3 separate regions of the Homo sapiens genome follow, and regions 2 and 3 are each linked to region 1. The links come from fine-mapping of genetic effects on gene expression. A gene starts in region 1. Each other region holds a variant in brackets. All regions are shown on one strand. Distances are from middle to middle. Region 1 holds the start of ABCC6 (ATP binding cassette subfamily C member 6). Region 2 has its middle 64 kb from the start of NPIPA7. Region 3 has its middle 450 kb from the start of NPIPA7.

Region 1 (6,695 bases):
ATGTCCAACTGGGAGCTGGTTCTGCAACATCCTGGCTGATACTGAGTATACCAGGGTCACCAGCTAGCAACGTGCCAATGTGAACAATGTGTAAAGGGCATTGCAGATCACTCCTGACCTGTAACTGTCATATAAATAATGCACAGGAAGGGCTTGAGCCAACCGAGTGTTTTCCAAAATGCAGGAAGTGCTCCAATCGTGCACATATGAGATGACTGTGGGTATGGAGAAACAGCAGGAAATGAAATGTACTCACCAGGTAAAAAACTATCCTTTCTCCAAGTCATTTTTCAATCCCTGCTATGAAATCAAGGAGCAACTCTCTGTTGGGCCAGTAAGTCTCTAGGGTCTCTCTAATATATTTTGGTTTCTCTATTGAATAAAAGAAAGGAAGAAAATGAGAGAACGTGGGCACACCAGAGGGAAGGCCAGAGCTAGGTTACGTTGGAGGAACTGCTCAAAGAACCTCAGTTTAAAGCAGAAGTTGGCAAACTATCAATCATCAAAGAAAAACAAAAAGCATATGTCATGACAGGTGAAAATTACATGAAATCCAAATTTCAGTGACTACAAATAAAGTTTTATTGAAACGCAGTCGGCCGGGGGTGGTGGCTTACACCTGTAATCCCAGCACTTTGGCAGGCCAAGGCAGGCAGATCACCTGAGGTCAGGAGTTGGAGACCAGCCTGGCCAACATGGCGAAACCCTGTTTCTACTAAAAATACAAAAAAATAGCGAGGTGTGGGGGTGGGCACCTGTAATCCCAGCTACTCGGGAAGCTGAGGCAGGAGAATCACTTGAACCCAGGAGGCGGAGGTTGCAGTGAGCCGAGATCGCACCATTGCACTCCAGCCTGGGTAACAAGAGCAAAACTGCATCTCAAAAAAAAAAAACAAACAAAAAAGTAACACAGTCATGACTATTGTCTATGGTTATGACTATTGCGTTCATTCTGGAATGGCAGAGTTCAGTGTTCGGAAGGAAGATTACCTGGCTCACAAAGTCTCAAATACTGTGTACCGCTTGGCTCTTTAAGTTTGCCAACCCCTGGGTTGGTGGCGGGTGATAATGTAAAAATTAATACAATGGCAGAAGAATGAATGAACTCTGAAGAACATTCTTTGGAAGCCTACAAGAATGGAGTAGAAGAGGATGGATGAGCAGAAAGGCTCACACTTGGAATGCCAGTGTTTATTTAACACACTAAGGTAAATACATATCACATATAAAAATTGTCCTATAATACAGCCAGTGGGGGAACATAAAAATAAATGCATAACTTTTTAAAAGGTTCATCCTAATGTGGCTCTAAAATTACCTTGTGTATCCAAGAGTCTACATGGTATGTTTTGGAAAATGCCAGGTTATGGTAGCTATAAACTGTCCAGGAACATGGGAGTGTATGCGTATGTTTGCGCATGCGTGGATTTTCGGAATTACAAAATCTGTTTGGGAGAACCGTGTTCCACTGAGTTGACCTCTGTAGCCTTTCTAATATTGCTCTGTTTGATTAACAGATTCCCTTCTACACCCCGATAGGAGGAGTCTACTTTAAGACTTCACCAGGTTCCAGCCTGTCCCCTGCCTCCCCCGAACATTGCCTGGTTCCAGGCTCCCAGGGATGGCAGCTACCATCTTGGCTTTGAAGAGTGGGGACATCCGGAGGTAGCCCCGGCCATGGTGGTGGATGAAGAGGAGGTAGATGGGACCAAGGACCCAGAGGTACATGGGGGGTACCCAGACCCCTGCTGTTCTCAGGAAGCACAGGCTCAGCAGGCTGGTGGCGGCAGGTTCAGGCTCTGTCTGGTTCCAGACCTGAGGGAACACAAAGAGGACCCTTAGGATGGTACAAGGCAGGGGTCCCCAGCTCACCTGCCCAGGGGGCCAGGCAACTTTTTGGATCTTTAACATTTACACAAAAATGTACCAAGTACTCTTTGGAATACCTACTAATTCTCAATTCCTTTCATCCTGACATTAACCCTAGGTAGTTGCAATTATATTGATTTGCAGATGAAGAAGCTGAGGACCAGAGAGGTTGAGTAACTTTGCTGACTTTACCCAGCTGAGGAGTGGAAGGGCTGGGATTTGAACCCAGGGAACTGGGCCATGTGGTCTAGGAGACCTGGGCTCCATAATCATTGCTAGGCATGGACTGTCAGTTAATCCTTATAACAACTCCAGGACGCAGACAGTACTGTCTCCATTTCAGAAACCAGCAGACTGAGGCACCAGTCGGGGAACTGCCTCCCCCAGGGACACACAAATGGGAAGTGGCAAAGCTGACTCTGACCCAGGCTTATCTGACCCCAAACCTCGTTCGACTGGTGGTCTTGATGTATGATTTGTTTTTATTTTTTATTATTAATTAATTTATGTTTTAGAGACAGGGTCTCACTCTGTTGCCCAGGCTGAAGTGGCACAATCAAAGCTCAACAAAGCTTCGAATTTCCTGGGCTCAAGCAATCCTCCCACCTCGGCCTCCCAGAGTGCTGGGATTACAGGCATAAGCAGCCTCACCAGGCCTGGCTAATTTTTTTTTTTTATGTTTTGTAGAGATGGGGGTCTCTCTATGCTGGTCTCGAACTCCTGGTCTCAAGCAATCCTCCTGCCTCAGCCTCCTAGGTACTGGGATTACAGGCAAGAGCCACCGGCCCAGCTTGATCTGTTATTTTCATCTCAGCAGGTCTGCTGGTCCTATCTAACCCTAGAAGAAATTTGAAGTTTAGTGGACGTGGCCTCTTCAATTCTCTCTCCGCTGTCTTTTTACTCCTCCTGGTTTCACAACTCACCGGCTGTGCAAACTTTAACCTCTCTGTATCTCAGTTTCCTTCCCTGTAAAAGGGGGAAAACGAGACTCTACCTCTATGAGTTGTATTAAATGGATTAATAGCAGCAAAGTTCATAGCAGCATGGCACAAGGTTGGGCACAAGGCTAGGCACAGAGAAAGCCCTCAGTTCATTGCCAGTTTATTGCTTCAACTCCCTGGCCCTCGAAATGCTGGCAGTTTGCAACCCCCACCCCCACTCCATGAACTCCACTCCCTGGAGTCCTTTGCTAAGAGCAATGGAAAAAGAAACCAGAGAGGTAAGGGCTCTCCGGGGGTAGGAGGGCTTGGGGGACCCACTAGCTTTATGCAAAGAAGAGTCAAAGCCCCTAGTAGCTGGGAGGTCTGGTGGCCCCTTAAATAGAGCTGGGCTCTCGGCTGCTGGCTTGGTGAAAGAAATCCAACCCGCTGCAGTGAGGGGGCCGGAGTAAGTCTCCTCGCTTCCCGGGTCCAGGAATTTGGGGGTCTCTCCTCTCCCCAGTATCGCAGCCCGAGAGATCTGCAGCCAAACCAAGCCTGGAAAAGGAGAGTGGGGCGCGATGGGGGGCACTCACCCCCTGCCCCGCGCAGGGCTCAGCAGGCGCGGCCATCGGCGCCTTCTGTCGTCGTGGGTCCCAGCGTCTGTCTGTCGCTAAGTCTCTGGGCAGACTGCTCGGCCGCGATCCTGCCGGAGAAGAGGCGGGGCTGGGCTGGTCGGGCTGGGCTGGTCCGGCTGGGATTCGAGCTCCGGGATCGGGAGGCCCCGGGCAAGGTCCAGCTGCGCGGCGGGAGTGAGGCCACGGGAGGTGAAAACAGGCGAGGTGGGGGATGGGGGAAGAGAGGCGCTCGGGGAGCTGGGACGGGCACCGGGTTGGGGGGTCCCGGAACCCCTGAAAGTTCAGTGACACCTCCATAGTTCCCTCTTCCCCCTGCAACAAGAATCACTCCAGACTTCCTAAACACTTTGGACCCAGCAATTTCCAGGAGTTCATCCTGATGAGAGAACTGAAAGGTGTGCACACGTTAGTAACAAGGAGGCCTGGTGACCGCCTAAGCGTCCAATCGCGGGGACCACCGGGTCGAGGCCGAGAGGATGGAGACCGCGTCACAGGCACCTCGCTGCTGGAATGGAGGGTGGTGGGGAGAACTTAGAAGATTATGCAATGGGCTGGCAGGGCTATACCCAGCCGCCCTGGTAAGCAGAAACTCAAGAAACCTCTAGGGTCCTGTTTTCTGGTCGTATGATCCCAGGAGTGCACATGGGCCCCTCGGGTGTCTGAACAGAAGGGCATAGGAGGGAGGGCCGCAGCCCTGCAGTCTTACTCTGCTGGTGTAGCGGTCACCTGCCAACTCCCACCCCACCCTGCACCGCGGGCTCCTGAGTCGGCAGATTAAGCATTTTATAAATTCTATTTTAAATACGTGTTTTAAACTTGTCAGATATTTGTCTTCATTTCAGTCCCTGCGCCTCTACCTCTTGCTGTGGTCGCTTATTTAACACTGGGGGGCTACGTTCTGCTAAGTCCCAGGGAGAGACTGTTCCTAATATCCGAGGGAGATATTATTCCTAATATCACGCTGGGTGAACACCACGTGTGTACAGCCTCTGATACGATTGGTAATATCCAAGGGAGATATTATCCTAACATCCCAGTGGGTGAACACCATGTGTGTAAACGCTGTGGTATTATTAGAAATATCCAAGGGAGATATTACTCCTAATATCACAGTGGGTGTACATCCTGTGATATTATTCGTAATATCTGAAGGAGATTTTACTCCTAATATCACAGTGGGAGTACACACTGTGATATTATTTGTAATATCCGAGGGAGATTTTACTCCTAATATCACAGTAGGTGTACAACCTGTGATATTATTCATAATATGCTAGAGATATATTACTCCAAATCTCATGGTGGGTGTACACTCTGTCATAGAATTCGTGATATCCTAGGGAGTTATTACCGCTAATATCACAGTGAGAGTACACCCTGTGATATTATTCATACTATCCTAGAAAGATATTACTTTTAATATCACAGAGGGTGTACACCCTGTGATATTATTCATAATATTCTATGAAGATATAACTCCTGATATAACCGTAGGTGTATACCCTGTGATATTATTTGTTATATCCTAGGGAGATACTACACCTAATACCACAGTGGGTGTACACCCTGTGATATGATTTGTAATATCCTAGGGAGATATAACTCCTAATATCACAGAGGGAGTACACCCTGTAATATTATTCATAATATCCTAGAAAGATAATACTTTCAATATCACAGTGGGTGTACACTCTGTGATAATATTCGTAATTTCCTAGGGAGATACTACTCCTAATATCACCTTGAGTGTACACTGCGTGATATTATTCGTAATATCGTAGGGAGCTATTGCTTTTAATTTCACAGTGGGTGTATACCCTATGATATTATTCATAATATCTTAAGAAGGTAGTACTCCTAAAATCACAGTGCCTGTACACACTGTGATATTATTCATAATATTCTAGGGAGATGTTACTCCTAATCTCATAGTGGGTGTACACCTTGTGATACTATTTGTAATGTTCTAGAAAGATATTCCTTTTAATATCACAGTGGGTGTACACCCTGTGATATGATTCGAAATATTCTAGGGCGATATTACTCCTAATATCCCAGTGAATTTACACCATGCGTGTACACGCTGTGACCTCCCAGAAAGATATGACTCCTAATATCACAGTGGGGGTACACCCTGTGCTATTATTTGTAATACCCTATGGATATCATAATATCACAATGAACGTACACCATTGTGTACATGCTGTGATATTATTTGTAATATTTTTGGGTGATATTACCCCTAATGTCACAGTGCGTGTACATCTTTTGATATTATTTGTAATATTCTGTGGAGATATTGCCCCTAATATCACAGTGGGTGTATACTCTTTGATACTATTCGTAACATCCTGGAAGATATTATCCATATTGTCACGGTGGGTGTACACCCTGTGATATTATTCGTTATATTCTGGGGATATACTATTACCCCTAATATACTGTGGGTGTACCCCCTGTGATATTATTCACTATATCTTGGAGATATAATATTACCCCTAATATCACAGTGGGTGTATACTTTGTGATATTATTCATTATATCCTGAAGAGATATTATTTCCTTTAATATCACAGTGCATGTACACCTTGTGATATTATTTGTTATATCCTGGGGAGATACTACTATATTACTCCTAGTATCACAGTGGCTGTACGCCTTGTGATACTATTCATTATATCCTGGGGAGATATTATTACTCCTAATATCACAGTAAGTGTATACCCTGTGATATTATTCATAATATCCTGGGAGATATTACCCATATTGTCACAGTGGGTGTACATCCTGTAATATTATTTGTAATATCCTGGGGAGATATTATTACTCCTAATAGCACAGTGGGTGTACACCCTGTGATATTATTGGTTATATCCTGGGGAGGTATTATTATTCCTAATATCACAGTGGGTGAACATTCTGTAATATTATTCATTATATTTTGGGGAGATATTAATTCCTCTAATATCACAGTGGGTGTACACCCTGTGATATTATTCATTATATCCTGGGAAGATATTAATCCCTCTAATATCACAGTGGGTGTACACCCTGTAATATTATTCATTATATCCTGGGAAGATATTATTTCCTCTAATATCACAGTGGGTGTACACCCTGTGATATTATTTGTTGTATCCTGGGGAGATATTATTATGTCTCATATCACAATGGGTGAACACCCTGTGATAGTATTCGTTATATTTGGGGAAGATGTTATTACCCCTAATATCACAGTGGTGTACACTCTGTGATATTATTCATTATGTAG
Region 2 (10,587 bases), 220 kb after region 1:
AAGTCTGAGATGTTCAGAAATAATCAGAACGTCTCTATAAATATCATAAAGGATATATCATTTTGGCAGAACCAGATCCAGTTTTTGTGGGGACTGAAGCTTATATAATATGGGGATCTCTGTTTAAGAAAAAGAATACAAAATTATGAATTTAAAATTAGGCACAAAAGAGAATGTTATTTTGGAATGAGAAATTAAGTATAATATTCCTGTAGCTGCCTGGACATGGTAGCTCATGCCTGTAATCCCAGCTTTTTGAGACGCCAAGGTAGGAGGATTTCTTGAGCCCAGGAGTTCAAGACCAGCCTAAGCAACATGGCAAGACCCCCATCTCTACAAAAAAAAAAATTCAAAAAATTAGCCAGGTGTGGTGGTGTGTGCCTGTAGTCCCAGCTACTCAGGAGGCCGAGGTGGGAGGATCGCTTGAGCCAGGGAGTTGGAGGCTGCAGTGAGCGATGATCTTGCCACCACACTCCAGCCTCCAGCCTGGGGGTAACAGAGTGAGATGTTGTCTCAAAAAAATAAAAAGAGAAAATTCTGGAGCCTTTAGCTATTTCCATTCCATTCTTCTGGGATCTGTGTAGGCAATTAATCAGAAATGTGAACATAGAGGTGCTTCATTATTGAAACCCAGCTTTCCCTTCTCACCTAAAGCCTTCCCCAAGTCCAGCATTTAAAGAGACAGGTACAAGGAAAAGACCCTGAAGCCCAAGCCTCATTAGCTTCAGGTAAATTCACCTCCGCTCTCTGGAGAAGCAGACAACAGAGGCCTCTTGTGAATATTGAGGAGAAGGTTGTATGTGTGTTCATGTGCGTGAGATCCAAGTGGAGAGCATGGGAACCTAGCTCAATTTTCCCTTGAGGTGAGCTTGAAGCTTTGGGTATCTTCCTCTCAGAGAACGTAAACCCATTTTTCCAACATTGTTGTAAAATATTCTGTTCCCACCTTTCCCACAATCAGCTTGCCTGACCCCACCACAGGGTGTGTCATCTTGTGCTTCTGGCACACACACACACACACACACACACACACACACACACACACACACTCTCAGAGCCCTGCCATCTGAAGGCAGCCAGCTCCAGAAAGGCCAACCCTTAGCTGTAACTCAGCATAGCACTGTTCATGATCTTTGGTTTCCATTTCTAGGCTGGTTTCCTTTTTTGTTTTGTTTTTTCCTTTGCCAAGACTGTAGTTGAAATAGGATAAAGGATTTATTTTTCCATAACAAGGTAGGAGAAAGGGTGCTAGGTTACAAGCACCCTGTCAATATCAGAGTTGGAAGCTTCTTCCTACCATCAGGTGTGTGTTGTGAAAGGAACGAGGGGTTCAGGCAAGTATTTCCCAGCAGGTGGGAAGGGGTCTTGATGGGATGGAAACTAGGAAAACAAACCAGATTCCCTGAGGGAAAATCAACTGTTCCTGAACTGTTATCAGTGTGGGAGTAGGGTTCACAGATTTCATATTCTAAACATGTTTGTGTGTGGTGTGTGCACACACACCTACTATGTGGCAGAGCCTGTCATAAGTGGTGATGGATTCCTGTAGATATAGTTTGCTGGAGCTGCCATAACAAAGTACTACAGACTGGGTGGCTTAAATGACAGAGATTAATTTTCTCACAATTCTGGAGGCTGGAAGTCTGAGATCAGGGTGTCAGCAGGGTTGGTTCCTCCGAAGACCTCCTCTTGGCTTGCAGATGGTCGATTCTGGTGTGTCCTCAGATGGTCTTTCCTCTGTGCCTGTCCATCCCTGGTGTCTCTCTGTGTGTCCTAATCTCCTCTTCCTATAAGAACACGAGTCTGATTGGATTAGAGCTCACCCTAAATGAGCTAAATAGGTTTAAACTTAATCACCTATTTAAAGCCCCTATCTCCAAATACAATGACAGTCTGAGGTGCTAGGGGGTTAGGACTTCAACATATGATCCATATGGTTGAAGGGCTTCAAATTCATATATATATATATATATATATATATATATATATATATATATAGAGAGAGAGAGAGAGAGAGAGAGAGAGAGAGAGAGAGAGAGAGAGACAGAGAGACAGAGAGAGAGAGACAGAGTCTCGTTCTGTCGCCTAGGCTGGAGTGCAGTGGTGCGATCTTGGCTCACTGCCACTTCCACCTCCCAGGTTCAAGTGATTCTCCTATCCTGGCCTCCCAAGTAGCTGGGATGATAGGCATGCGTCACCACACCTGGCTAATTTTTGTATTTTTAGTAGAGATGGGGTTTCGCCATGTTGGCCAGGCTGGTCTCAAACTGCTGACCTAAGATGATCTGCCCACCTCGGCCTCCCAGAGTACTGGGATTACAGGCATGAGCCACTGTGCCTGGCCTCAAATTCATATTTGAACATTTATTCAAATTTGAATTTTAGGGGGACATAATTCAGCCTGTAGCACTGTCAACCTAAAAGGAAGAAGCTGAGGCAAAATTAATGTAAGTAAAGACTCTGTTTGGGCCAAGCTTGAGGACTGTAGCCAGGGAGCGTAGATTCAAGTTTCCCTGAATATACACTCCAATTAGCAGCAGTTACAAGTGGATTTATAAAGGCAAAAAAGGGGGACATGGAGTGGGCTGGTACACAGTTGGTTGTCAGGAATTCTCACTGGTTTTCAGAAATAACATTGACGAGTGATTGGCTATACATTGTTAAGCTATGAGGTGTGGGTTATAGCATCCAGTGGGGCATTATTAGATTAATTTATAGCTACTTGTGGCAATGGCAAGCAGTTTTAAGAAATGAATACCGAGCTCAAAGGGGGTATGTAGGACATGATTGCTATCTCATTCTATTGCCTCTCTGGGCCTAATAATTTAAAAGGCTTGTATTCCTCAGATGAAAGTTCTGTTCTTTTCTCAGCACCTTGAATGGCTGGAGAGAGCACCACCCCATCCTTGACCATGCTGAGTGCTGGCTGGACTTCAACTGGGCCAGTACTCCCTTTTCCCTTGTGGAAGGTCCCCTGATTAATGCTTACCTGAACGCCTGCTCTTCCTTCAGTCCCCAGTTCTCTGCATTCCCCAGCACTGGGAACAGAGACAGCATGTCTGTGTTATACAATAGGGAAGAGTATGGGCTCTGGGTTTAAACTTTGACTCTGCCCCCTTGTTAGCCCAGCGACTGTGAGCAAGTCATTTCACTTCACCCAACTTGTTTTCCTTTTTGTACATTGGAGGTTACTAAAAGCACCTTACCTGTCCAATTGTAGAGAGGATTAGGTGTATTAATGGGCATGGCACAGTAAACACTCACAAAATGCTAGCTACTATTAATTGTCAAGATTATGTTGGTTGCAAGGAGCAGAAACTCATATGGAAGTCATTTAGGCAATAAAAGGGGATAATTTATTGACTCTCATAACCAAATCCAGGAAGGTAGGAGAGCAGTTGAGTGGCAGGGGCAACTGGAAAGAGACCATTCCCCATGTCTGTCTGTCTGTCATATCTTTTTTATTTTTATATATGTATTTTTTTACCATGGTGGGTTTTTTTTTGTTTCTTTTCTTTTTTTGGTTGTTTTTTCCATCCTTGGCTAGAACCATGGCTGCCAACAAGCTTCTCTGTTTCATAATGGGAGACCTTCTCATGTGGTTATGATGTGAAAAAAATCCCAGGGAAGGACTCTGATTGGTTCAGCTCAGGTCACATAGCCACCCACGTGGCCAGGTCAGGGGCTGGGGTGCTTAGGTGGGGCAGGGGGTTCTGGGTAGATAAAAATAATTAATGCCTTCTGCCTTATCTAAATGTTCTTTGTACTATGCCTGGCACTTGGTAGAAATTAAACAAATTCCCCTTTTTCCCTTTCTGTTTGACCCTCATGTCTACTTTTTATTACATAAAAGAGTAATCCAGAAAAGAAAGTCAGCTCATTGGAGACACTGGGTAGGGAGAAAAAGCTTTTTATAGAATATTAGGTAGGAGTAGTGGCTTAGGATGGTAAGAGCTCTGCACGAAAGGAAGACATTACGGTCTAAGGCCACCTGGGAGATCTGAGTCAAGCAGCTCTATCCCTTCCTGAGGACAAAAGAGATTTCAGGCAATGACTCATTTGTTTGGAGAGCTAATTGACAAGACATATTAAGAGTTTTAGCAATTGTTCATGCTTTTTGATCCAACAAATTCACTTCTAGAGTGTCAAGAACTGTGCTGGTCTAAGATATTATCCTACATGGAGGCTAGTGAGTTTTATGGATGTGGGCAGAAGACATGAGACTCTGGATTGAGAGATAAAGGACTTTATTTTTCATGGCACAACAGGAAGCTTGAGCTTCATGTCTGCACCAGTTCCCTTTGACCCCCAAGTCCCTCAAGGGTGACACAGGTTGACATGGTTTGGCTGTGTCCCCACCCAAATCTCATCTTGAATTGTAGTTCCCACAATCCCCATGTGTCATGGAAGGGACCCAGTGGGAGGTAATTTAATCATGGGGGCAGTTATCTTCATGCTGTTCTTATGATAGTGAATGAGTTCTCACAAAATCTGATGGTTTTATAAGGGGCTTTTTCTTCTTTTGCTCATTCTTCCCCTTTCTGCCGCCATGTGAAGAAGGACATGTTTGCTTTCCCTTCTGCCATGATTGTAAGTTTCCCGAGGCCTCCCTGAGTCAATTAAATCTCTTTCCTTTATGAATTACTCAGTCTAGGGTATGTTTTTCATTTGTTTGTTTTTTTGTTTTTTTTGAGACAGAGTTTCACTCTTGTCGCCCAGGCTGGAGTGCAATGGCAGGATCTCAGCTCACCCCAACCTCTGCCTCCCAGGTTCAAGCAATTGTCCTGCCTCAGCCTCCTGAGTAGCTGGGATTACAGCCATGTACCACCACACCCAGCTAATTTTGTGTATCTAGTAGAGATGGGGTTTCTCCATGTTGGTCAGGCTGGTCTTGAACTCCTGACCTCAGGTGATCTGCCCACCTCAGCATCCCAAAGTGCTGAGATTACAGCCATGCCTAGCCTTTTTTTTTTCTTTTTTTGAGACAGAGTCTCACTCTGTCGCCCAGGCTGGAGTGCAGTGGCGCATTCTTGGCTCACTGCAACCTCCACCTCCCGGGTTCAAGCGATTCTCCCACCTCAGCCTCCTGAGTAGCTAGGATTATAGGTGTGCACCACAATACCTGGCTAATTTTTTGTATTTTAGTAGAGATGAGGTTTCACCATGTTGCCCAGGCTGGTCTCAAACTCCTGAGCTCAGGCAATCTGCCCACCTCGGCCTCCCAAGGTGTTAGGATTACAGGTGTGAGACACCACACCCAGCCTTGGGTATGTTTTTATTAGCAGTGTGAGAAATGAGTAATACATGGATGGATCCAGGTAGAATCTGTGCCTGCAGTGGATTTGCATCACACCTGAGGAACCCCAAGTTTAGGAATCTTGGTCTTTTCAACCTTTACCCTGGATGGAGGGAGACATTGTCATTATAATCCTTTCTTTTTCTTTTTCTTCTTCTTTTTTTGTTTTTTGTTTTTTTGAGGTAGAGTCTTGCTCTGTCACACCAATGTTGGAGTGCAGTGGAATGATCTTAGCTCATTGCAACCCCTGCCTCTTGGGTTCAAGCAATTCTCCCACCTGTCTCCCAAGTAGCTGGGATTACAGGCGCCCACCACCACACCCAGCTAATTTTTTAAGTGTTTGTAGTAGAGATGGC[A/G]GTTTCACCATATTGGCCAGGCTGGTCTCGAACTCCCAACCTCAGGTCATCTGCCTGCCTCAGCCTCACAAATTGGTGGGATTACAGGCATGAGCCACTGCGCCTGGTCCGGAGATATTATTATTATAATCCTAATCAGCAAATAAATCTGTCTTCTACTATACTAGCCCTATCTTCTAATGCTATTAGCTATACAAACATCCTTATAAAGACGGTCTAGAACAAAAGCTGACACAAGATGTGCAGAAATGTAAGAGACACATGGGGAATTGTTGCACAGCATAGAGAATCTTTCCTAAGGAAACTACATCTGAAACACACACAGAAAATGTATTCTTAAAGCAACAATAGTTCAGCATTAGGGGAAGAGGTTAAACAGACTGTTGTTGGGATACTCTTCTGTTTCTAAACATGTTTCTGAAGATCTTGGAATGGGAAGTGTAAACGTTCAACTTAAAATGTAAAGTGGAACAAAAAGCTGCAAAACTTGAATATATGTTTTTATTAACTATGTACAGACATCTATTCTAGGAAACCTGGGAGGGAGACGTGCTAAAATGTTCATAGTCTTTCTCTGGGCGATGAGTCTAGGATCCACTGTTTTTCTTCATTTGGAATGTTCATAGTCCTCCTCTGGGCAATGAGTCTAGGATCAACTGTTTTTCTTCATGTGGAATGTTCATAGTCTTCCTCTGGGCAATGAGTCTAGGAGCCACTGTTTTTCTTCATTTGGAATGTTCATAGTCCTCCTCTGGGCAATGAGTCTAGGATCAACTGTTTTTCTTCATGTGGAATGTTCATAGTCTTCCTCTGGGCAATGAGTCTAGGAGCCACTGTTTTTCTTCATGTGGAATGTTCATAGTCTTCCTCTGGGCAATGAGTCTAGGATCAACTGTTTTTCTTCATTTGGAATTTTTTTTTTTCAGTTTTTCTATAATGAACATGTATTACATTTATAATAGAAAATAACAAGATAAATTATTTCTGAAAGCAGTGCCCAGCATCCAGAATTTGGCAAAAACAGGAGAAGAAAGCATAAAACAAGCAGGGAAAAAGGTTTTCAGTTAAATTAGATGTCCAATGAAGAGATCAGCTTGGCTGCAAAATCTCTTTTTGACAGACAATTAGTTCTGGGCAAGTCAAATGTTTCAACAGTGCGTTCTTCTGGGGCAATTAAAGTAATTCATACTTGATGTGCGGAAATGTGGTAATTGGGAAAGTTCCCCAAATGGCAGTTGAAACTGGGCTGGTTGTGTTTGGAGAAGTTAAGTCATGCCCTTGACAAGCCATCTATCTGAGTCTACTGAAGAGGGCTTGGGCTGGGTGATTTTAAGATGGAATTTTCCACTGGGCATAGGAAGTGATGTTGGGAATGGACTAGAAGGGTCAACAGTGACAACATTAACAGCATTTATTGTAATATAAATACAGTTGGCCCTTGAACAACATGGATTTGAACCGCATGGGTCCACTTATACATGGATTTTTTTCTGTTTTTGCCACCTCTGAGACGGCGAAACCAATTCCTCCTCTTCCTCCTCTTCCTCAGTCTCCTCAATGTGAAGACAATGAGGATGAAGACATTTATGATGATCCACTTCCACTTAATGAATAATAAATACATTTTCTCTTCCTTATGATTTTCTTAATCATATATTGTTTTCTCTAGCTTATTTTATTGTAAAAATACAGTGTATAATCATATAAAATACAACATATGTGTATATTGTTTGTGTTATTGGTAAGACTTCTGGTCAACAATAGGTTATTAGTAGCTACGTTTTGGGGGAGTCAAAAGTTATAGGTGGATTTCCAACTGTGAGGGGGTTGGCATCACAGTCATTCATGGGTCAACCATTGTGTCAATAACAATCATACCACACATATTTTGAGTGCCACATGTTGCACTAAGCACTTATGTATCTATTAATTTCTACAACTATCCCGTGCAATAGATACGATTGGAGTTTCCGTCTTACTGATAAGGAAACTGAGGGCCAGAGAGGTCAATTGAGTTGTCCAAGGTCACACAGCCAGTTAGTAATGGAGCTGGAATCTGAATCCATGCAATCTGACCCTTGTTCAATGCTCCTAGACTTATGTGCTGGATTTTTTTTTTTTTGAAATAACAATGTTTTATACCTCTATCTTTACTTTCCTAGATAAGGGCATCTGATTTCCCTCCATGGCAAGCAAGTTATGTTGTATTTGCTACATTTGAGAGGGAAAAAAGCTGAAGTTCAGAACGGATTAGAAATTTCCCAAGGCCACACAGTGAAAGAATAGAAAGTTTCCTTTTTTAAATGGCGGAGCTTTTATATCAATGCTGTTTGTAAATTTTAGTTGGCAATGTCTGTTATATTCCATGAAACTGAATGAGAGGTGAGGTGGTATATTAGCCAAAACTCTCTCAGCTACATCTTGCTATTGTTCCATGCAACTTCAAAGCCCACAGATAGACTGGACTTCAAGTATGGCTGGATCCAGATGCTTAAATGATATGCTTTGAAATCTGTCTGATCTCTACTTCTCAGCTCTCTTTTCATCCATGTTGGCTTCATTATCAGGCCCTTTTCTTATGCCATCAGCAGCTGCTGACTTACCTCCTACCAGCTTAGTAATCCCAGGGGAAAATGAACTTACCTTTGCCAAAAGCACTGGCATAAGAAGCTGACTCTCATTGCATTGTAAGAGTCAGGTGCCCATCTCTGAACGAATTATTGTGGCTAAGGAAGTAGAAGAGGGTGATTAGTCAGTCCTGATCATGTGCTCAGCTCTAGCTTTAGAAGATGGTGCTATCCAAACTCCATGAATGAACAGTGAAGGAAGGACCATTGTTCAAAAGTAAGTGGAAATGCTGTTTCCAGGAAAGCAGAATGGGAGGAGGAAGTGGGGGGAGGGGGGAAGGGATTCAAGGGGTGGGAGCTGGAATGGAATTAGCCCTAAATAGTTGGAGTTTGGAGGGTGTAAGTAAGTGTGAGCTGAATGCCGAAAGCAGAGTTGCAAGATGGTGTGTCAGCCCAGTTCTGAGAAACAAACTCCCATACAGGATTACACATATGTGATTTTTATTAAGGGAAATGCCCTTGAGAGAAAGCAAAGAAGGTGCCACATAAAGCTGGGAGAACCTGAGACAGTAATGCAAGTCTGACTCTGAGTAAAAGAGAGAGGAGAAAAAAGTTAGGGTGCGAACACCATAGGGAAGTCCCTAAGCCAAAGCCGGGGACAGGGGAATCCTGTGTCTCCCGGGGAGGGGTCTGCTTTAGTGTCCCTGCCATGCTCAGTCATTAGCCAGGAGCACCTCATGGAAGGAAGCATATGGATTCCCCAGCGCAGCAGCTGGGGCCCTGGTTAATTACACTCCCAGTAGAGGGAGGTCGATGAGGCCCATTCTCAGGGCCACCACATGGTGAGCCATGCAGCAGTGGCCTGGCAGAACATTTGTCTGGGTTCATACAGTATTTACATTAAAAAAAATCAGGGCTGGGTGCTGTGGCTCACACCTGTAACTCCAGCATTCTGGGAGGCCAAGGCAGGCAGATCACTTGAGATTAGGAGCTGGAGACCAGCGTGGCCAACAAGGGGGAAACCTCATCTCTACTAAAAATACAAAAATTAGCTGGGTATGGTGGTGCACCCCTGTAATCCCAGCTACTTAGGAGGCTGAGGCAGGAGAATTTCTTGAATGTGGGAGGAGGAGGCTGCAGTGAGCTGCGATCATGCCACTGCACTCCAGCCTGGGCAACAGAGTGAGACTCTTGTCTCAAAAAAAAAAAAAAAAATCAGTTGCCAGCATTCAACAAACTGTGTATTTTACATCTTTAAAAACCCCTGGATTTCCTGCTTCTCTTTAAAAAATAGTGGCAGTTTGGCAACATTGGGAGTCCATTCCACAAATCTTGCAAAATTGAGTCCTCGCTGCCTCCTTAGATAAGGTGTGTGCTCTCTAGTTTGCCACAGTCTCCACCAGACCCAGTTGCCCTAATCTGTACTCTTCACTCATTTGTGTTACTTGTCTGCCCATGTGTGCATTTAAGTTTGCAACCCTTGCCTTAAATTCATCTGAGAAACAAACTATGGCAGTCAGGTTCAGCCATAGAATCTAATGGGAAGGAGCAAAGCTGGAGATTGAGCGACTAAGCTAGAGGTTGATAAAGCAGGAATAGAGCAGGTAGCTGGAGTCTGAGCAGACAGACTTCAGGGCTTGTCTGCCTTCCTAAGAGCTCCTTTGCTGGCTGGGTGAAGTCACTGAGAACCTAAGCAGAGGGTGTCAGTTCTAGCCTTCCTGGAGAAATCTTAGTTGAGATGGATGTTTAGAGCTGGTGGACACTGCCTTTGTGTCAAGCCAGTCTAGGAGTCACAGCAATATTTGGACACTGGTTGAAAGTTGTTCCATTCCATCCCACTTGCTCAGCAATTTGGACAAGTGTGGGTTTAGGTTATTTTAATTGGTTAATACCCTTTTGTTTAGGTGCTCTCCTTTCCTCTTCCACATGGTTCAGTAAGGCTGCCAATTCTAGAGCTCTTTCTTCTCCTATGAAAGTCATGGATGTCTTAGGCTGGGTTTTCCCAGAGGCAGATCCTGTGATGAGGATTTCCATGTAATGGTTTATTTGTAGGGTGACTCTGGGAAGCACCAGTAGGAGAATGGGAGTGTATTAGTCAGGGTTCTTTAGAGAAGTAGAACCAATAGAATAGCACACACACATACACACACACATATGCATATACATACACACACACACACACACACACATATATAAGCATATGGGGAATCCATATGCTTCCTTCCATGAGGTGCTCCTGGCTAATGACTGAGCATGGCAGGGACACTAAAGCAGACCTCTCCCCAGGAGACACAGGATTCCCCTGTCCCCAGCTTTGGCTTAGAGACTTCTCTATGGTCCATATATATATATATATATATATATATAT
Region 3 (10,587 bases), 610 kb after region 1:
GGTTTCAGCAGCATGACCTAGTAGGTGTTCATGCTCTAAAGTCACATAGCTGGGTTCAAATCCTAAACTCTGCCTCTTGCCAGCTTTGTATAAACAGGATGTGGGGGTGCAAATTACTTCAGTTCTCAAACCTCACTTGCAGTGTCTACAAAATAAATAAATAAATAAATAAAATGAAATCTGATACAGTGTGAGGATTAAATGAAATATTGAGTCTATAGCACTTGGTATTGTAAGTGCTATATACTCAAGAAATGGCACGTTTTGTTAACTTCATTAGAAACAAGTATCTCTTTTCAGTCCAGTCCTGTGTCATCATTGTCTTCATCATCATCATCATCATTGTCATCTTTGTTTTTTAGAGATCGGATCTCTTTCTCTGTCTCCCAGGCTGAAGTGCAGTGCTGTGATCATAACTCATTGCAGCCTCGAACTCCTGGGCTCAAGCGAATCCTCCTGCATCAGCCCTTGAGGGTTCAGGACTCTCAGCCCTTGAGGTGCTGGGACTGCAGATGTGCACCTTCATGCCTAGCTAAGTTTTTATTTTTTAGAGATGAGGTCTTAGTTGTGCAGGCTGGTCTTGAAAGTCTGACCTCAGGCAATCCTCCAGTCTCCTGAAGAGCTGGGATTACGAAGATGAGCCACTGTACCCAGCTTTGTATCTTCTAATAGAAGCTCGCAATCCTTGATTGGAAACCCTTGGGGACACATGTTTTAAAATTCAGAATGTTATGGAAATTAGAAAGGTAATGTGGAGCATAAACTATACATTCCACAACATCCCACTTTCAGTGGGGTCTGCAGTAGCACTTCCTGGTCAGCTCATTACTGCCGTTAAATATGTGGATGTTCATGCTAGGTGGGATGTGAGATAAATAAAGGACATAAATAGCCTCATTTCAGTTCTGGTCAAGTTTTGTTGCCAAATGAATTTGTGCCAACCTTAATTTTAAAAAATTTGGTTTCCAGAGCTTTTGGGAATTCAGAAACCCATGCAGTCATTAAAAATTCTCCTGTTCTGTGTATTTAAGCTATTTCTAGTGCTTGTTTCTGCTTTAAGCTGTGCTTCTCCTACATCTCTGTGTTTCAGTCAACCTTTCAAAGCTTTCTTTGGACTCAGCTCTCCTCCTTTGACTTCCTGTGTTTTACTTACCCCTCTCATCTCTGTCTCTATTCTTTACCCCCTTCTGGACTTCTTCTCCTTCGGGAGTTCACACACTACTGGCATGAAGACTGTTTTCATTTTCTTTGTTTTTTCCCTCTGCTACATTGTCTCTAGATTCTCATGCCTCTCTCTCTCCTCCTCTGTGGATTTCAGAGTCTTGCTTGTGCAGTGAGGGCTCCCTGCCTCTGTTCTTGTCTAAGTATCATCTCCCATTTGATATACCCTTTTATTTCTGGTGAAGATATTTTATTTTTCATAAAAACATCATTGTACAATGCTCTATAGAGGAAGAAAATTTCCTTTAATGTCCCCCAAATGCTATGTGGTTTAACAGTCATCTTCCTTTAAAAAACTGAATATGTAATTGATAATAACAACTGATTTCTTGTGAAATATAGCATTTATGTTTTAAAAATTTATTTGCCTTTATTTTAACTAAAGGCAAGTCCAGTTTAAACCTGTACTTTTTGCAGTTAGCCAAATCAAAGCTATCATAATTCAAAGACAATAAAATAAAGTGCTAAATGGTGGTGCTGATTCTTTGTTTCTGCCCTTTCATTCATTGGTGGTGGCGCTTGGCTCCCACCCTAACGACCTTACCACCCTCTTTCTCCTTTTAATTTCTTCATCTCTTCCAGATATACCTCTTTGTTCATGCTTTCTTTTACAATGCCAATATCATTATGATAATTTATTGAGCTCTTACTGTGTACTAAGCACTTTACATGGATCATTTAGTTTCATCCTTTCAGTACTCCATGAGGCAGGGTAAGGACTCTCTTAATCCTTATATTTCAGATGAGAAAATTCAGGCTGAGAGATAAAGTGACTTGCTCAAGATTACACAGCTAGTCAGTAGCAGAAATGGAATTCAAACACTATTGCATTAAATTTTTGCATTAATCCTTGTTGCATTAAACTGATTCCAAAGCTTATGATTTCAGTCACTATGCCTTTATTTCCTCCATTGCAGCAGATACTGCCATTCCTGTTATTGAATTCATCTTCTCTTTCTCGATTTTTACAGCGTCTTAAATCTGACTCATCTCTGCTGCCCTCTTTTCAGCATGCCATTATCTTAGGTGGTTTGTCCACATTTACCCATTTCCATGGTTGAATTGTTGGTCCTTATCTTTTCCCAATGGCACATTGAGATTATTTTATAATCACCACATACTCATGGTGGACTATAGGACCAATCCCAATTTCAAATATTCTTGTCCTCACAAACCACTGAAGCATCCTGGAAATAAGATGCTGGTCAGCAGAAAGAGCATCTGCTTCCTCTGTTGCTAGACACCTGCCCATTCAAAGTCATGTCTTGGCAGAAGGCACCATTCAAAGTCATGTCTTGACAAAATGGCTTCATGTCATAAAGCCATGGTATCTGTGTTACCTTTCGGGTATCCGTGAATAATTGAACCTATGTTTGTTATATTAGTTAGACTTGCTGTGCAGCAGTAAACCAAATTGCCACATTTCTAATTTAATGTAACAAAGACATATGTCTCTTTCACCTCAAAGTCAGAGGTGGTTTAGGAGTCTCCTTGGCTTTTCTCCTTGAACAGTGACTCGACTCAGGGATCTGGGATGTTTCCATTGTGTAACTCCGTCTTTTTTTTTTTTTTTTTTGAGATAGAGTCTCGCTCCATTGCCCAGGCTGGAGTGCAGTGGCGTGATCTCGGCTCACTGCAAGCTCTGCCTCTTGGGTTCAAGAAATTCTCCTGCCTCAGCCTCCCAAGTAGCTGGGATTACAGGCGCCCACCACCACGCCCAGCTAGGTGTTTTTTTATTTTTTTTTATTTTTAGTAGAGACAGGGTTTTGCCATGTTGGCCAGCCTGGTCTTGAACTTCTGACCTCAGGTGATCCACTCACCTTGGCCTTCCAGTGTGCTGGGATTACAGGTGTGACCCACCACACCCAGCAGCAACTCCATCATCTTAAAGTTCCTTGCTTCCAGCCACCTGGATAGGAGAGTGGGTGGGACCTATTCACAGACGCTTACCCACAAAGAACAGTCATTATCATGACTACAAAGACATATTCATTGAGATGATTTGTCCAAGGTCTTCCAAGTTAGTAAGTGGTAGATTCAGAAGTAACTACCTTGACTCTTTTTTCCATGATAAGTTTTAGTAACTAGGGATATTTTATCTGTGTTAATCCTTCCTGGCTTGATTTATTTAATTCACAATGAGTTATTGGATTTTTTTTCTTTTTTTCTTTTCTAATAATTCTGCCAAAAGTTCCAGGGAGGGTTCCCTTGGGTAGGCTTGGGCCATATGTCCATCTATCCTCAAACCAATCACTCTGGCCATGACAATATGGCATTCTGTTTGGTCAGGTCAGTGTTGTGCATCTGATTCTAGAGAGGAGGAAATGGATTATGGGGCACCTTCACCTCTACCATATGTGGTGGGAACAGTGGAGAGCTGTCTCCCAAAATAAAGCCAGGATGCTGTTATTAAAAGAAAAAGTAGCAGATGTCAGGCAGTCAAATCAAGAGAAGGACTATCAAGTTGAACAACTGAATGAAGAAGGAAATATAAAGGAGAATTAGTGACTAAGGAAATTAATCAATGAGAAAATAAATGAACAAATGATGCTTCTTTGATGGCAGATGAGGGAATCCTCCCAAATGGGGAAAAGTGAATTAAAGGCAAGCTGATGCCACACTGAACATAGGTTTTGAATGTTGCATTGTTTTGTGGTAGGTTCATCTTGGTTAAGGTGAATCTTGGAGGGTCCAGAAACTTTTTGGTACAAAAATGATTATGTGTTCCCTGTGCACCTTTGACTTTTCTCAATCTCACTGGAGTGGGAGCAGCTTTCAGCTGTTGACCTGCTACCCTCTGTCTTAGTCCACCTTGTGTTGCTATAATGGAATATCTGAGATTGGGCAATTTATAAAGAAAAGATGATTATTTGGCTTATGATCCTGGTGGCTGGAAAGTCTAAAATTAGGCATCTGCATCTGGTGAGGGCTTCAGACTGCTTCAACTCATGGTGGAAAGTGGAGGGGGAGTGGGTGTATGCAAAGAGATTACATGGTGAGAGAGAGAGCAAGAGAGAGAAACCAAGGAGGCCAGGCTCTTTTTAACAACCCACTCTCAGATGAGCTAATCCATTCCTGAGAGAGTAGGAGCTTACTCATTCTTGAGAGAGACATTAATCTATTCACAGGAGATCCATCCCCGTGAACAAACACCTCCCATTAGGCCCCACTTCCTGATACTGCCCCACGGGGGATCAAATTTCAATGTGAGTTGAGGGAGACTAACCACATCCAAACCACAGCAGCCCCACAAAAGAAACTCCATAAAGGGAAGGTAGTTTCTTCCTCCCCATCCCCAAGCCTTAACCTCTCTCCTACAATTTCTGTAGGCCTCCCCCTCCTCCTTGGAGAATGTGTTCCTATCAGCCGAGCTGAAAAA[C/T]AGCCAGGAGGCTCATCTGCGTTCGCCTCCGTAGGCAAAGTGACTTCTGCAACACCAAGCCTAGAGTGCGTTTATCTCTCCCTGAGTCAAAGAGATTTTGTCTATAGGCCTTTCTGCTGTGTTCCTCCAGAGAGAGGTAAACTGCCCTTAAGTAATTGCTGAAGAAGGCATAAACCAGGGAAATTTGATTTGAGCATGCAATTTGAATCGGGAAATGCTCATATAAATAACCGGAGCAGCTGAATGCGGCGCGTTTGTGCTTTATAGATTTTTTTTTTTTTTTTTTTTTTTTTTAATCTCAGGGTCTTCAGAATACAAGTTCTGCTGCAGCAGCTTAAACCACCTCAGGTCTTTGCACTTTGGCCTTGTCCTAGTTTGGTACTGTTAACTGCCAGGCTAGAGTCTGGCTAAGTTGAAGTTGTCTTATTTATCTGTATCTTTGGAAAGAAAAAAAAATTGCTTGAACACCCAAACAACATTATATCATAGAACAGCAACACAGTCTTTAAAAAAACAAACACTTTTGAACCAAGAAGGAGTTTGGAGTCATTTAGTTCAACTTCCCCAATGATGGAATAAGGAATTCAGAGATGGTAAGTCACTTTCTGGGTTAACTAAGATTTTGGAAGTATCATAATCAGCTTTTGCTGCAGCAAAAAACAATTCCTAAATCCAAGAGCTGTAGGTTTCTAGCTTATATTATATCTGTGCCAAAGGTCACCCATGGCTCTCCTGGGCTGGGCTGAGCTCTCTCCTCTTGTATTCTCAAGGAGCAGCCACTCTTGGCGGCATGCTACTCTCATGATAGATGACAGAGGCTGAAGAGCACAGAACCAAATTTCAGGAGTTCATTTATAGCTACTGATTGGATATGGTGATTGTCATATCTGTTCACATTCCATCAGTCAAAACACGTCCCTTGGCTGCCAAGCCCAATGGCAATAGGGCAGGGATGGGAAGCATGGCTAGAGTGGATAGGGTGCAAGTCATTGTGAGCAAGTGATACAGTCCACCACTGGAGAGTGGAGAAACTCTTGCAGTGATGAACGTCCAAGAAGAAATGTGAAAACTGAGAAAGTCTTTGATGTTTCCTGAATCCACTTATTCTTTTAGTGTTACTGATGTTAATGAATAACCACATTCACCCAGTGATGTAAGCTTAATATGTGGGTGTCATTCCAGATCCTCCCTCATCTCTGCTTGTTACATCCAATAATCAACCAAACTCTTTCCTTATCAGTACTTACCAAACATGCCTCAAATTTCCCCCTTCTTTTCACACTTCATTTCCCAGGTATTTTGCCTACAGGCTCTTTCCCTCCAATCCATGCACTGCACCATGGCCAGAGCCACTTCCTCTCATCCTATCTAGGCCACTTTCTTGGGTAAAGTCCTTCCACACTTATAAGGATAAAATGCCATTCTTCTAATGTCGCCTTAAACATTCAGTTCCTGCTACTCCCTCCCCACCTACAGCTGGCCCTGGGTTCAATATTTACTCATCTAAGAGCAGCCAGTTTGAATATTAACCAGGTCAGTATGGAAGCAGGACTTGGGACATGCTCCAGTCTCTGCTGGGATTTGCTAAGTAGGTGAGAACTAAATAAGAATTGATTATAAGTCTCAGAAGGATGGGAGGAGGAAAGCCAAGCTTCTATAATCAATTCTTTGTTTATAGAGGAGGTGATCCTTCATTTTCTCTGAGGGCTCAGCAGAATAATGGACTTCTTTTTTCCCAACACTAGGGTCCAGAAAATATTACTCGTCACCTCCTACAATGTAAGCCCCATTGAGTATCCCAGGATTCTGTGATGATTTAACTATGAATCACCCACTCCCAGGTATTGGAGAGTTGACTCTTGCTTTGATTTCACTGAGATTTGGGATCATCCTGGCCGTCTTTCCTCCATCCTCTATTAATGAGTCACTGGACTATGCTGGAATTAGCTGGATATTCCACATTGTTTATCAGTGGCTGTGTGCTTTTGTGGCATGTTCAACCATTCTTTGTGGCTATAATGCATTTTATGCTCCAATCCATAAGTCCTTTACCCCTCATCCTGATTTTGATTTACTCCTCTTGTTAATCTAGAAAACTGCTATTCAATATCATGAGCCTGGCTCACAGCATCTCTTCATTGAAAGCTCTCTTTCTGGAGTTTACACACTACTGGCATGAAGACTGTTTTCATTTTCTTTGGTTTTTCCCTCTGCTACATTTTCTCTAGGTTCTCAAGCCTCTCTCTCTCCTCCTCTTTGGGTTTCAGAGTCTTGCTTCTGCAGTGAGGGCTCCCTGCCTCTGTTCTTGTGTGAGTATCATCTCCTATCTGATATGTGTGTTTCTGGTGAAGCTATTTTATTTTTCCTAAAAACACCATTGTACAATGTTCTTTAGAGGAAGGAAGTTGGAGTTTTTTACATTATCTTTTTTAAAAAATTTATTTTTATTTTTATTTTAAGTTCTGGGGTATGTGTGCAGGTTGTGCAGGTTTGTTACATAGATAAACATGTGCCATGGTGGTTTGTTGCACCTATCAATCCATCACCTAGGTATTAAGCCCAGCATGCATTAGCTCTTTTTCCTAATGCTCTCCCTCCCCCCACCCCACCCCCCCAACAGGCCCCAGTGTGTGTTGTTACCCTCCCTGTGTCCATGTGTTCTCATTGTTCAGCTCCCACTTATAAGTGAGAACATGCAGTGTTTGGTTTTCTGTTCCTGAGTTAGCTTGCTGAGGATAAAGCCTTCCAGTTCCATCCATATCCCTGCAAAGGACATGATCTCATTCTTTTTTATGGCTGCATAGTATTCCATGGTGTATATGTACCACGTTTTCTTGATCCAGTCTATCATTGACGGGCATTTGGGTTGATTCCATGTCTTTGCTACTGTGAATAGTGCTGCAATGAACATACGTGCACATGTATCTTTTTTTACATTTTTTTTTTTAGCTCCTATGCTGTCCTGCACATTATCCCCTTCATTCACTTAGTTAATTAATATTGGTTGACAGTTTACTATGTGCCAGGCACCATGCAAGGCACTGGGAATGCAACTGTGAACAAGAGTGACAAAGCCCCTGCCGTCATGATACCAATTGACTAGGGGGGATTATGGCATCCAACAAACTCACATGAGTCAGGCGGTTACCAATGGGGTGAGTGCTGTGGAAGAAATAAATAAGGTGATGGGCTGGAGAGTAACTGGGAGAGGTCACTTGGATCGTGAGGTCAGGACCACCTCTTTGAAGAAGTGATGTTTCAATTGAGGCCTGAAAGATGAGAAAGAACTAGGCTTGGGAATGGATGAGGGAAAGAGTAAGTGCAATGAGAACAAGGGCACAGGCTTGGAGGCAAGAAAGTGCTTGAGGGGCCTAAGTCTTAGCCAACAATCAGGAGTGTGGTCTGAGATGAGGTTATAGGAGTGGGTGTGGATAGAACATGTGAAAACTTGTAGGCTATTTTAGTAACTCTAGGCTGTATCTAAGAAAATGAAAATATATTAAAGGATTTTAAGCAGAGGAATAGCACAACATGATTTACCATTTCAAAAGACAACCCTAGATGTTGTGTGTATTAAAATGGGAAGCAGGGATAGACACAAAAAGTTCACTTTTTTTTTTTTTTTTTTTTTTTGTAAGGAGGCTTTTGCAGTAACCCAGACAAAAGCAGGTGCCTTAGACTAGGGTAATGGCCATGTGCTTACAGAAGAGTGGAAGTCAAGACCTACTTTGGTGATAAAACAAACGGGACTTGTTGATCTATCGAAGATGAGTTCTAGCAGAGATAAATCAAGGATGACTTTGAAAGCAAGGATGGTTTTTGCCATGAGCAACTGGGCAGATGCAGAGGCCTTTTACTGAAATATGAAAACTGGCAGAGGAGCATGAGGTTGGATAAAATGAGAGCTCTTTGAAGACATAACAAATCTGAGATGCCCATAAGGGGGCGTGATGACTAATTTTATATGTCAACTTGACGGGGCTAAGTGGTGCCGAGATAGCTGGTAAAACATTATTTCTGGGTGTGTCTGTGAGAGTGTTTCTGGAAGAGGTTACTATTTGAGTCAGTAGACTGAGTAAAGATGATCACTCTACTGAATGTGGGTTGGTATCATTCAGTCCACTGAGAACCTGAATAAAAACCAAAGGCAGAGAAAGGGTGAGTTTGTTTTCTCTGCTTGAGCTGAGACATCCATCCTCTCCTGCCCTTGAGACATCAGAGTTCCAGGTTCTTGAGCCTTCAGACTCAAACTGGGATGCACATCATTGTTCTCCTGGTTCTCAGGACTTTGGACTTGCACTGGAATTACACCCCAGCTTTCCTGATTCTACAGTTTGAAGATGGTAGATTGTGGGACTTCTCAGACTCCATAATGAGGTAAACCAATGTCTCATATCTTTCTTTTTTTAACTTTTATTTTAAGCTCAGGAATACAAGTGCGGGTTTGTTACATCGGTACATGTGTGTCATGGGGGTTTGCTATACAAATCATTTCATCACCCAGGAATGAAGCCTAGTATCCATTAATTATTTTTCATGATCCTCTCCCTCCTCCCACCCTCCGCCCTCCAAAAGGCCCCAGTGTGTGTTGTTCCCTTCTATGTACCTATGTGTTCTCATTATTTAGCTCCCACTTATAAGTGAGAGCATGCGGTATTTAATTTTCTGTTCCTGAGTTAGTTTGCTAAGGGTAATGGCACTCACTGATCATTAGAGAAATGCAAATCAAAACTGCAATGAGATACCATCTAAACCAGTCAGAATGGCTATTATTAAAAGGTAAGAAAATAATAAATGCTGGCAAGGTTGTGGAGAAAAAGGAATGGTCTGGCGCAATGGCTCATGCCTGTAATCCCAGCACTTTGGGAGGCCGAGGTGGTAGGATCATGAGGTCAGGAGATCGAGACCATCCTGGCTAACACAGTGAAACTCCGTCTCTACTAAAAATACAAAAAATTAGCCAGGCATGGTGGCGGGAGCCTGTAGTCCCAGCTACTTGGGAGGCTGAGGCAGGAGAATGGCATGAACCTGGGAGGCGGAGCTTGCAGTGAGCCAAGATCACGCCACTGCACTCCAGCCTGGGTGACAGTGTGAGACTCCATCTCAAAAAAAAAAAAAAAAAAAAAAAAAAGGAACACTTATACACTGTTGGTGGGAGCATAAATTAGTCTAGCCATTGTGGAAGACAGTATGGTGATTCCTCCAAGACCTAAAGACAGAAATACTATTTGACCCAGGAATCCCATTACTGGGTATGTACCCAAAGGAATATAAACCATTCTATTATAAAAACACTTCCTTAACCTGCACAATGCACATGTACCCTAAAACTTAAAGTATAAAAAAAAAAAAACAAAAAAACACTTCCACACACGTGTTTATTGCAGCACTATTTACAATAGCAAAGACATGAAATCAACCTAAATGCCCATCAATGATAGACTGGATAAAGAAAATGTGGTACATATATACCATGGAATACTATGCAGCCATAAAAAAGAATGAGATCATGTCCTTTGCAGGGACATGGATGGAGCTGGAGGCCATAATAAATCTTCCTGTGTATCTCTATATATCCTATTTGTTTTGTTTTTCTAAAAAACCCTGACTAATGCAGAGGCTCAAGCCATCTGTCTTCCACTAGACTTTGCTGTATCACTAATGTTGAGCACAGTGCTTGACATGTAACAGGTACTAAGAAAGTGTTGAATGAGAGAATTGAAATGAGATGCTTAAAAGCTACAGATGACTAATGGCTTCTATGACAACGGACAATCAGAGTCCCTAGCAATGGCTAATTAAACCATTCCAATCTGATGTCCAAAATATTGTGTGCTAGAGACCCCCTTTCTTTTCCCATTAATTGAACAGGCCCTGTCTTTTTTGCTCTTGTAGTCAATTGTTCTTCAAGTGTAATTAGCCCTTGCATTTTGACAGTAAATGAGACTCCAATACTTCGATAAATGGCTTGTTTCTGGAAAAGGAGT

The links. PIP is the estimated chance that this variant, and not a neighbour inherited with it, causes the effect.
Region 2: its variant is the best candidate, but not a certain one, in a credible set for the expression of ABCC6 in putamen (GTEx, PIP 0.68).
Region 3: its variant is the best candidate, but not a certain one, in a credible set for the expression of ABCC6 in uterus (GTEx, PIP 0.57).

Annotation. Positions count from the first base shown.
Region 1 is chr16:16,220,017-16,226,711 of GRCh38, forward strand. ABCC6 (ATP binding cassette subfamily C member 6) reads right to left here and starts at 3,478. Exons shown (of 31, transcript NM_001171.6): 1 at 3,383-3,478; 2 at 1,633-1,815. The coding sequence starts at 3,418.
Region 2 is chr16:16,437,584-16,448,170 of GRCh38, forward strand. No RefSeq gene overlaps it. Among named protein-coding and RNA genes, the nearest start is that of NPIPA7, 64 kb to the left of the region's middle. The variant A/G (reference allele first, on the strand shown) is at 5,653.
Region 3 is chr16:16,824,746-16,835,332 of GRCh38, forward strand. No RefSeq gene overlaps it. Among named protein-coding and RNA genes, the nearest start is that of NPIPA7, 450 kb to the left of the region's middle. The variant C/T (reference allele first, on the strand shown) is at 4,601.